2 separate regions of the Homo sapiens genome follow, and region 1 is linked to region 2. The links come from fine-mapping of genetic effects on gene expression. A gene starts in region 2. The other region holds a variant in brackets. All regions are shown on one strand. Distances are between the middles of the regions.

Evidence for each region. PIP is the estimated chance that this variant, and not a neighbour inherited with it, causes the effect.
Region 1: its variant is fine-mapped to the expression of NOL6 in gastroesophageal junction (GTEx, PIP 0.95). The same link has a PIP of 0.9 or more in esophagus muscle.

Annotation. Positions count from the first base shown.
Region 1 is chr9:33,507,873-33,513,257 of GRCh38, reverse strand. It overlaps the pseudogene SUGT1P1 and the pseudogene VN1R47P. Among named protein-coding and RNA genes, the nearest start is that of ANKRD18B, 14 kb to the left of the region's middle. The variant C/G (reference allele first, on the strand shown) is at 2,169.
Region 2 is chr9:33,471,396-33,476,780 of GRCh38, reverse strand. NOL6 (nucleolar protein 6) reads left to right here and starts at 2,857. Exons shown (of 26, transcript NM_022917.5): 1 at 2,857-2,992; 2 at 4,369-4,575; 3 at 4,661-4,777. The coding sequence starts at 2,939. LOC107987061 (a long non-coding RNA gene) reads right to left here and starts at 2,641. Exons shown (of 3, transcript XR_001746648.3): 1 at 2,584-2,641. RefSeq lists an enhancer at 2,906-3,245.

The DNA of each region.
Region 1 (5,385 bases), 36 kb before region 2:
ATCACTATAGATGATATTTGCCTATAAAACAAGCATTGGTGTTTTCAATCACAATCAAAAAGAAAAAATTCAAAACGATTCTTTTAAAAACTCACAAGAGATACAAAAATATTTTTTAAATACATGGATTGTCTTAAAAATTATTTCTCTCTGTTGCTATGACAGCATAGTGGTCAAGTCCATTGTCAGCTTCTGACACTGCCTCTTACAAGGAGGTGACTTTGGAAATGTCATTCAGCCTTCCTGTGCCCGAAATCACCTCACCTGTCAAATGGGAACAATAAAGCACTTCAAAGAATTGTTGTAAAAGTTCTATGTAAAACACTGTTACAGCACTCTTATGCTGGGAATATATATCTATACACACATATATTTTTATAGCGAAACTCTCAGGAAGAGGAAAATGAAGTTTAATAGGAAATTAATGGCTTGAAAACAATGGTACATGGAAAAGAGTGGCTTTCAGTTGCCATAGTACAACAGGCCTCTTGTTTTCACGCCAGATCCTCTCACTCTGAATAGGATGATCAGTCATTGAAAAAAGAAAAATGGCCTCCAGGGATGTGGCAATAGGAATGATCTTCTTATCTCAGACCACAGTAGGATTCCTGGGCAATTGCTTTGTTCTTCACCATTATAGTTATTTATTTCACCAGATGCACATTAAGGTCCACAGATCTGATTCTGCAGCACCTGACTGTAGCCAACTCCTTGGTCATTCTCTCTAAAAAATGCTCCTATCCTTGTCAATGCTTGGTATTGGAAATCCTTTTAATTTAAGTCATTCTGGTGGTAGTTTTATTATCTCATTATAATTTCAATGTCCACGATACAGCTATTTTTTTTTTTTTTTTGAGACAGAGTCTGACTCTGTTGCCCAGGCTGGAGTGCAGTGGTGCCATCTCGCTCACTGCAACCTCTGCCTCCCAGGTTCAAGTGTTTCCTGTGCCTTGGCCTCCTTAGTAGCTGGGATTATAGGTGTGCACCACCAAGCCCAGGTAATTTTTGTATTTTTAGTAGAGATGGGGTTTTGTCATGTTGCCCAGGCTGGTCTCCAACTCCTGGCCTCAAGGGATCCACCCGCCTCGACCTCCCAAAGTGTTGAGATTACAGGCATGAGCCACTGTGCTCAGCCATGACATAGCTATTAATATAGAACTTTTCATGTGGGCCTATAGGTCAATCTAGGAATTTGCCCTTTCAGAGGCTATTCATATTTATATGCATATTGGTGCATGGCAGGGGTTGGTGTATACACCTTGGTGTATGGCTGAGCCATAAATGGAGCATACCTGAGAATAACCCTATTCTAAGTGTGTTTGGAGTCCCAGGCTAAGGAATCCAGGAGTAGCCAACACTGAGATTCACTACTTACCTATGAAGGACAGCCATACCCCTGCCCCATCCCTTGGAACACAGCCTGTACAGGTGATCAAGGCCCTTTATTTTGGGTTAAATGGAGACTGCTAGAAGGAGGGTTCTAAGTGAAAATGCGATATGCTATATGGACTACATGCTTTTTTTTTTTTATACAAACGGTAGCGTTTCTCCAGGCCAGCCCACCACCACTGGACCACCCCTGTATGTAACTCCTGAATAAACGTTATGTTTCCTTCACTGGTTCTGCCTCTCCTATAGTGTCATCCCAATCGGAATCAATGGGGATCCGGAAGGACAACCGGCCATTTAGATAACATTTGAAAATTAACCAATGTAATTGGTCACATTGTAACATTATTATTAAAATATTATTTTAAAATTATTATTATATAACAGTAACATATTATTATTAAAAATACATATGAACATTTCAATAAAGGTAGAAAAAGCACTTGATATTGAATGCTTTCCTCTTGATTTTACAACCAAGACAAGGAAGTCCATTATCACTATTTCTATTCAATAGTGGACATACTAGCCAGCAACAAAACTAAAAGGTATAAAGATTACAGGAAAGTTAAACCATCTCTATTCACAGACTGCAAGATTGTAATCACATAAATTCCAAAAGACTCTACAGACTCTACAGTCCCACGGCAGCCCCTTCCTCCGCGCCGCGGCGGCGCCTCCGGCCCACGTCACGCTCGCGCCATTGTTTCCCAGCCGCTGCTCGCTGGGACCCCGCCAGCCCTCGAGCGCGGCCATTCGCCGCGTTCTGCCCTCTCCCC[C/G]CTTTCCTCACGCTGGTGGTGGCCCTTTCCTCAGTCCTGCTGATGTCCTCCAGCTGATTCCAGGCTGTTCCCGGCCACCCCTGAGGCCGTCCTTTCGCTTCTTGTAAAAGCCTCCCCGCCTCCTGAGCTCCCTCGGTCGCCTCCCGAGAAGCCAACGGGCCTCTCTGGTGGAGCGTTAGGTTGACAGCGTTTTAGCAGGACCGCGAGAAACCGGGGAGATCCTCTTACGAGGAAAAACTCCAAGATTACATCCCTGTTATCTTTCCTCCAAGTAGTTTCTGATCATAAGTTATTTGTTTAAAAATGATGTTTTAATTAGAATTTATTTGATGGCTTTTAAAAAACTTTTACTGACACTCAACATGTTTGTTTTTGTAGGAGCTGACTAAGGCTTTGGAACAGAAACCAGATGATGCACATATATTATCGTCAAAGAGCTTATTGTCACATTCTTCTTGGGAATTACTGTGGTAATTTTTCTTATAAAGTATATTGCCCCTTTTTAATAAGTTACTTATACATTTTACCCATGACCAATTAATCAAATAAAATAAAGGTTGTCTTTGAGGATTTTTGAGTTGGTCTTTCATACAAGGTAAAGTAGCTCAAGTGTGACAGACATGTTGAGCAACACCTATTTAAATTTTATGGATGTCTCTTTTTTCGTTCAGTGGGTGGATAATGTATATAGGTTTCATTCGTAGTTATTGAGTAGGCTGATAAAGAATAGTATCACATTTACTGTTTAACAGAGTATTAAAATGACATGCTCTTCTTTGTATTTTTTTATAAAAAAGAATGTGGCATGGTGGCTCACGCCTGTAATCCCAGCACTTTGGGAGGCCAAAGCGGGAGGATCACATGAGCCCAAGAGTTCGAGTCTAGCCTGGACAACATAGCAAGACCCTATCTATATTAAAAAAATAATGTATTCCTGTACTGTGTAACTTTAAAAATTATTCTGATGAAGAATCTGGATAGGGAAAAACTGAATATCTTTTTTTTTTTAGATGGAGTTTTGCTCTTATTGCCTAGGCTGGAGTGCAGTGGCACAATCTCATCTCACTGCAGCCTCTGCCTCCTAGGTTCAAGTGATTCTCCTGCTTCAGCCTCCCAGGTAGCTGGGACTACAGGTGTATGCCACTATGCCTGGCTAATTTTGTATTTTTAGCAGAGAGGGGGTTTCACCATGTTGGCCAGGCTGGTCTCAAACTCCTGACCACAGGTGATCCACCCACCTCAGCCTCTCAGAGTGCTGGGATTACAGGCGGGAGCCACTGCACCCCGCCAAATTACATAAGTGATGCTAATGAGAAAAGGAGATGAATTTTGTCACACAGCTTTATTCACTGACCGAAGAGCTTTAAGAAGAAAGCTAAATGTTAAGCCAAAAGGAAGGTACAAGAGTAATATTTATTTGAATTCTGTGTTGGATTAGCTTTTCCTAATTTAAAACCATTTGGCGTTTCTATTAACTCGAAAACTTGGAAATCTAAAACTGATCAGTATTCTGTGTGTGTTTGCTAGAATCTGTAAATAACTGACAAAAAACATCTTTTTCTTTCTTTCTTTTTTTTTTTTTGAGACGGAGTCTCACTCTGTTGCCCAGGCTGGAGTACAGTGGCGCAGTCTTGGCTCACTGCAACCTCTGCCTCCCAGGTTCAAGCGATTCTCCTGCCTCAGCCTCCTGAGTAGCTAGGACTACAGGCGCGTGCCACTGCATCCGGCTAATTTTTAATTTTTTTTTTCATAGAGACGGGGTTTCACTGTGTTAGCCAGGCTGGTCTCGATTTCTTGACCTCGTGATCCACCTGCCTCGGCCTCCCAAAGTGCTGGGATTACACGCGTGAGCCGCCATGCCCAGCCAGAAACGCATCTTTTTCTACATAGTTGCTGTTGCTGATGCAAAGAAGTCTCGCGAATTCAATCCAAATAATTCCACTGCTGTGCTGAGAAAAGGGTATGCAATAGCTACTCTTTTTGTTGAGCTTGGACTGTAAATAGGAGATGTGTAATTTGTTGAATGAGTTCAGTGTAAGCTTTATAAGTAGTAAAATTCTGTATTTATAGCAGAGATATGATTCAATTTTAAATATGAAGTTATAGTTCTATTATTTTGTTAACCATAGTATGTGATGGAGATCTATACTTAATATATTTAAAAATAGCGATGATTGAAATAACTGCAAGGTATAGATGAAACTGATGGATTTCACATTCTTTTTTTATTTAAAATTTGGAATTTACCATATTTAACTGACTAGAGGACATCCTATTCTTCAACCAAGCTGAATGGGCTACGCTTAATGGTGTGAAAGCTCTGTATCTATGTGCTTTATATCCCAACTTGTTTCTGTTGATAAGTGTAACTTTATTCTTTAAGTAAGAAACTGCTTTAATTCCTTTGTATGTATTTTGGAATAAGCAGGTATGTACAATTAAAGTGAAATTCCTTCTGAAGTAAGTTCTAAAATTGAATTTTACTGGAAATTGTACTAGATGTTAACAGTATTTTAGAAAGTCTCTTGGCTTACTAACATATACTTAAAAATAAATTTTTTCTTTCAACAATAGAAAATACTAAGATGTTTTCATTTAGAAAGAAGGCTATTTTCCAGATCTTGTATGTGTGTTAATTTGTTTTAAATATGTTCATGCAGGATATGTGAATACCATTTAAAAAACTATGCTGCTGCTCTAGAAACTTTTATAGGAGGACAAAAATTAGTAAGTATTAAATTATGGTTTTATAAACTTACCTATTTCTGTCTTAAATACCAAAGCTGAATTTTGTTAATGTTAATCTCAAGTTAATTACAGAAACCCAATACCTGTTTTTCTCACCGTAATTACATTTCATATTGATCGCAGATATGAGATCACTTAAAATTGGTTAAATTAGCCTTTTAGCATTTAAACCACAGATAAACTTACCATTAGAAGTAAAAAACTATATGGAAACACTTAACATGCTCTCTCTACTTAGTCTGGCTTTGTTTTTTTCTTTTCTTTATTTTATTTTATTTTTTTTTTTGAGACAGTCTCGCACTGTCACCCAGGCTGGAGTGCAGTGGCGTGATCTTGGCTCACTGCAACCTCCGCCTCCTGGGTTCAAGTGATTCTCCTGCCTCAGCCTCCCGAGTGGCTGGGACTACAGGCGTGTGCCACCATGCCCAGCTAATTTTTGTATTTTTAGTAGAGGTGGGGTTTCACAATG
Region 2 (5,385 bases):
GGCCGAGGCCGGCAGATTCCTTGCGCTCAGGAGTTTGAAACCAGCCTGGGCAACATGGCAAAAGTCTACACAGAAATACAGAAATTAGCCAGGCATGGTGGTGCGCGTGTGTAGTCTCAATTACTCAGGAGGCTGAGGTGTGATTCCACCACTGTATTCTAGCCTAGGCAACAGAGCGAGAACTTGCCCCTCTTCTCCCACAAAAAAGATGGAATAGCTGGGCAAGGTGGCTCACCCCTGTAATCCCAGCACTTTTGGAGGCTGAGGTGAGCGGATCACTTGAGGTCAGGAGTTTGAGACCAGCCTAGCCAACATGGTGAAACCTTGTCTTTACTAAAAATACAAAAATTAGCCGGGTGTGGTGGCATGTGCCTGTAGTCCCAGCTACTCTACTAGGGAGGCTGAGGCAAGAGAATCGCTTGAATCTGGGAGGCGGAGGTTGCAGTGATCTAAGATTGCACCTCTGCACTCCAGCCTGGGTGACAGAGCAAGACTCTGTCGCAAAAAAAAAAAAATAAAATAAAATAAAAAGAAGGAATAGCAAGTGAAGGGCCATATTGATCATGACTTTATGGAAGTTGAAGTTTGTGTTTAGTTTTAAGTACAATTGGAAGACACTGATGAGTTTTTAAAAGGAAGTGACATGATAGAATTTCTATTTTAGAAAACTAATTCTGGCAGCTGTGTGGAAAATGAATTGAAAATGGACATACCGCTCTTCTGAAACTTCCTTAAAAAGCTATCGCATAGCCGGGCGCGGTGGCTCACGCCTGTAATCCTAGCACTTTCAGAGGCCAAGGCGGGTGGATCATGAGGTCAGGAGATCAAGACCATCCTGGCTAACACGGTGAAACCCCGTCTCTACTAAAAAATACAAAAAATTAGCCGGGCGTGGTGGCGGGCGCCTGTAGTCCCAGCTACTTGGCAGGCTGAGGCAGGAGAATCACTTGAACCCGGGAGGTGGAGCTTGCAGTGAGCCGAGATCGTGCCACTGCACTCCGGCCTGGGCGACAGAGTGAGACTCTGTCTCAAAAAATAAATAAATAAATAAATAATAAATAATAAAAAAGCTATTGTATAAACTGACCTGCACTGTTTGAAGTCAGAATAGTGATTGTTGGGGGCAGAGTTACTAGAGGGCAGCATGAGGGGAGATTCTGAAGGTGCAGGAAATGTTCTGCTTATTTTCTGGGAGCTGACTATATGAGTATGTTTGGTTTGTTAGTATTCAAGCTTTACACTTGGGATATGTACATTTTTCCTTATGTATATTGTACTTCAATACAAATTTTTAGACTGGGCACGGTGGCTCACCCCTGTAATCCCAGCATTTTGGGAGACTGAGGAGGGCAGATCACTTGAGGCCAGAGTTTGAGATCAGGCTGGCCATCATGGTGAAACTCTGTCTCTACTAAAAATACAAAAATTGGCCTGGTGTGTTGGCGCATGCCTGTAATCCCAGCTACTTGGGAAGCTGAGCCACAATAATCAATTGAACCAGGAGGTGGATGTTGCAGTAAGCTGAGATCGACCCACTGCACTCTAGCCTGGGCAACAGAGGGACACTCACTCTCTCTCAAAAAAAAAAAAAAAAAAAAAAAAAAAAAATATATATATATATATATATATATATATATATATATATATTATATGGTAATAGTTGAATTTAGATGATCCTGCATTAGGAAATAAAATGAAACATATAACGGTTATTACTGGAATAACTGACAAAATTTAAAGATGGAATTTGTATACTAGTATTGAATCACGATTAAATTTCCTTAATTTCATAATCGGGCTGTGCTTACATAAGAGGTAGTCCTTGATCTTAGTAGATACATACCTAAGTATTTAGGGAGATGTGTGATTGGTTTTCAAATGGTTTTGCAAAATAATATGTAAATACATAGGTAAAGATAAACTTGGCAAAATAGTAACACTAAGTGAATCTAGGTGAAGAGTATATGCGCATTCATTATATTATTCTTGCAACATTTGTTTTAAATTTTTAATAGTTTAAAAATAGGCCGGGAGCAGTGGCTCAGGCCTGTAATCCCAGCATTTCGGGAGGCCAAGGTGGGCGGGTCACTGGCAGTCAGGAGTTTGAGACCAGCCTAGGCAACATGAGGAAACCCCATCTCTAGTGAAAATACAAAAATTAGACGGGTGTGATGGTACCTGCCTGTAATCCCAGCTCCTCAGGAGGCTGAGGCACGAGAATCGCTTGAGCCTGGGAGAGGGAGGATGCAGGGAGCTGAGATCGTGCCACTGCACTCCAGCCTGGGCGACAGAGCAAGACTACTCCAAAAATAAATAAATAAATAAATAAATAAATAAATAAATAAATAAATAAAAATAACTAAATTACTTGAAATTGTAATAAGCTAAGTAATAAGTAAAAACTGGAGAAAAGTCATAACAATAATTCGGGAACAAGATGATGTGACGGGCTAAACCTGGCAGTGAAGACACAGAAAAATGAATAAATTCAAGGTATGTTTTGGAGGTAGAACTGACAAGATTTGTTAACTGATAAGGTGTAGCAAATAAAGAAAAAGGGAGGAATAACTGCTGTAAACAAACCTGACCAAAAGGAACAAACTAGCTCCGCCCTTCCCGATTGCAGCCACGCGAAGGAAGTGAGGAAAAGAAAGCAAAGGCCTAGCTACGGGCAGGCTTCCGTTCTAGCGTCGCGAAGAGGCCGTAAAGCACAGAAACCCGTTTGTCCCCTCCCCTAATGGGCGGGCCTTGAGACTGCCCGGCCAATGGCAAGCGAGTAATCGACTGATAATCCAATAGCTCTGGAGTGGGTGGAGTCCTGAGGAATTGGGGTGGGCTGGACTTGGGCCTGGAGTTAGGCATTTCCGCCCACGTGGGAAGCTATGAGGTATAGACCCGGCTAGAATCTGAAGTGCGGGAGAGTGCTGGACCCTGAGTGATGGGGCCGGCGCCAGCTGGAGAGCAGCTTCGCGGAGCGACTGGAGAGCCAGAGGTGGGTTGAGCCATCGGGGAGGAACAGAGGCTCAATGTGCGCTCCCTTGGCTGCAGGGCCCGAGATGGCGTGATCTGACAGCTTGCGGGTGAAAGCCATGCCGGCGGCCCATTCTGGAGGATGTTTCCAGCCAGTGGCACTGAGACAGGGCTTGCTAGGGGTGATGGAACCTGGCAGTATTTGGTTAGAAGCAGTGAAGCCGGTAGAGCCTCTGCTCTCTTCTGGAGCTCTGCACCTCAAAGTTGAAGAGACCCACACTTGGGTCGTTTCTTTTATTTGGTGGTCCTTGACGATAAGCGGGATCTTCCTCCACAGAATTTGTGTCCAGTTCTGTGCTCCCCGCTGTAGCGGAGGGCATACGGTGCCTCTCCTGGAGCGCTCCAGTAAGGCTCTCTGGGATGAGAGGCATCGTGGAGCGGATGGGCCCACGGCTGTAGGGGAAAAGGTTTGGGATCCTGCACGCTTGCCTTTGAAGCCTGCTCATAGTACGGGTGTACCAGTTGTGGAACCTCGAGTGAATAGTGGGACTTCAAGTGTCTTCAAGAATTATTTTGAGGATTTAATGACTTGCTAAATGTGTCCTCTGGGGTCCAGTCGGTTCTAGCTCCTTCCATCAGTGAGTATTTAGTGTAAACTGAGGCAGTCAGGTCTTCCTAGAGGAGGTGGAACCTGGCAGGATTTGGTTGGAGCGAGAATGGGAAAGACATTTGAGAAGTCCCAGGCCTATATCAGCAGAAGAGGAAACTTCCTGAAAATACAAGGGGCCTGGGCATTACTTAGGGCAGGGCTCAGTCAGCTTCTTTTTTTTTTTTTTTTTTTTGACAGTCTTGCTCTGTTGCCCAGGCTAGAATGCAATGGCACGATCTCGGCTCACTTCAGCCTCTGCCTCCTGGGTTCAAGTGATTTTCCTGCCTCAGTCTCCCGCGTAGCTGAGATTACAGGCATGTGCCACCACACCTGGCTAATTTTTGTATTTTTAATAGAGACGGAGTTTCCCCATGTTGGCCAGGCTGATTTCGAACTCCTGACTTCAGCTGATCCGCCCAGCTCCACCTCCCAAACTGCTGGGATTACAGGCGTCAGCCACCGTGTCCAGCCTGGGCCCAGTCAGCTTCTATCACTACCAATTCCAAACAGAGCTCCATGCTTGTGGTGTCAGGTAGACAGGAGAGCTCTTAACTCAAGGAATTTTCGGCTCAGCGCTCAGTGATGTTCATCCAAGTAACGATTCTCCTGAGTTTTACAAAATCTGACTCCTACTCAAAAGAGGGACAGAGCAGGTGAAGCTTTTACCCACAACCTATCATGGTGGCACTTTAGGCAGCAGATGCTAGATACCTATTACCTCAAAATGGCTTCTCCCTCACTGGCCACAGGTGATGGAACCAGCCCTGGAAGGCACAGGCAAAGAGGGGAAGAAAGCATCCTCCAGGAAGCGTACATTGGCTGAACCTCCAGCGAAGGGCCTCCTGCAGCCAGTGAAGCTCAGCAGGGCAGAACTGTACAAGGAGCCTACCAATGAGGAGCTTAATCGCCTTCGGGAGACTGAGATCTTGTTCCACTCCAGCTTGCTTCGTTTACAGGTACTGTTGAGTGTCTGCAGCTTTTGTTCGAGGTGTGTACCTGGGACCCTGAGGCTGATGGACTGTCTTCTACCCTCTCTTACAGGTAGAGGAGCTACTAAAGGAAGTAAGGCTGTCAGAGAAGAAGAAGGATCGGATTGATGCCTTCCTACGGGAGGTCAACCAGCGGGTTGTGAGGGTGCCCTCAGTCCCTGAGACAGAGGTAAGCAAGTGGCCTGGGGAACTGGGAAGCCCAAGAGAGACCTCCAGTGGGGGTATATCAAACAGGGGCCTTGCTGTTACTCTGTTTAAGGGTTGGGGTGCAGGGAGCTCATTCTCACAGCAAGGAAGCTTAGCTGGGAGCGTGGTCATTTGTGTATTCATTCAGCAAGTACTTCCATGCCTTGCAGTATTTGTGTTCTTAGGATATATCAGTAAATAATAGCCTATGCTGTAATGCTGAGGTTATAGTTAATAGATAAGCATAACAGGTAAACTCTATGGCAATGTTAGAATGTGGTAAACACTGGAAAAAGGAAAAAGTAGGACGAGCAATGTAAGGGGATTGGGAGTATTAGAGGATGGGAGTGGTTTACAAGTTTAAAGGGGGTGTTCACAAAGTAGGCCTTATTGAAGTGACATTTGTGTAAAGACTTGAAGTAGGTGAGTCAGCTATATAGATATCTAAGGGAATAAAAGCATTCCAGGAAGGGGGAACAGCCAGTACAAAGGCACAAAGGCAGGAATGTTCCAGTTACATTCCTTGGAATGAATGAGGAATACAGAAGGAGATGAGTTCAGAAAGGTGATGGGGAAAAGTAGCATATCATG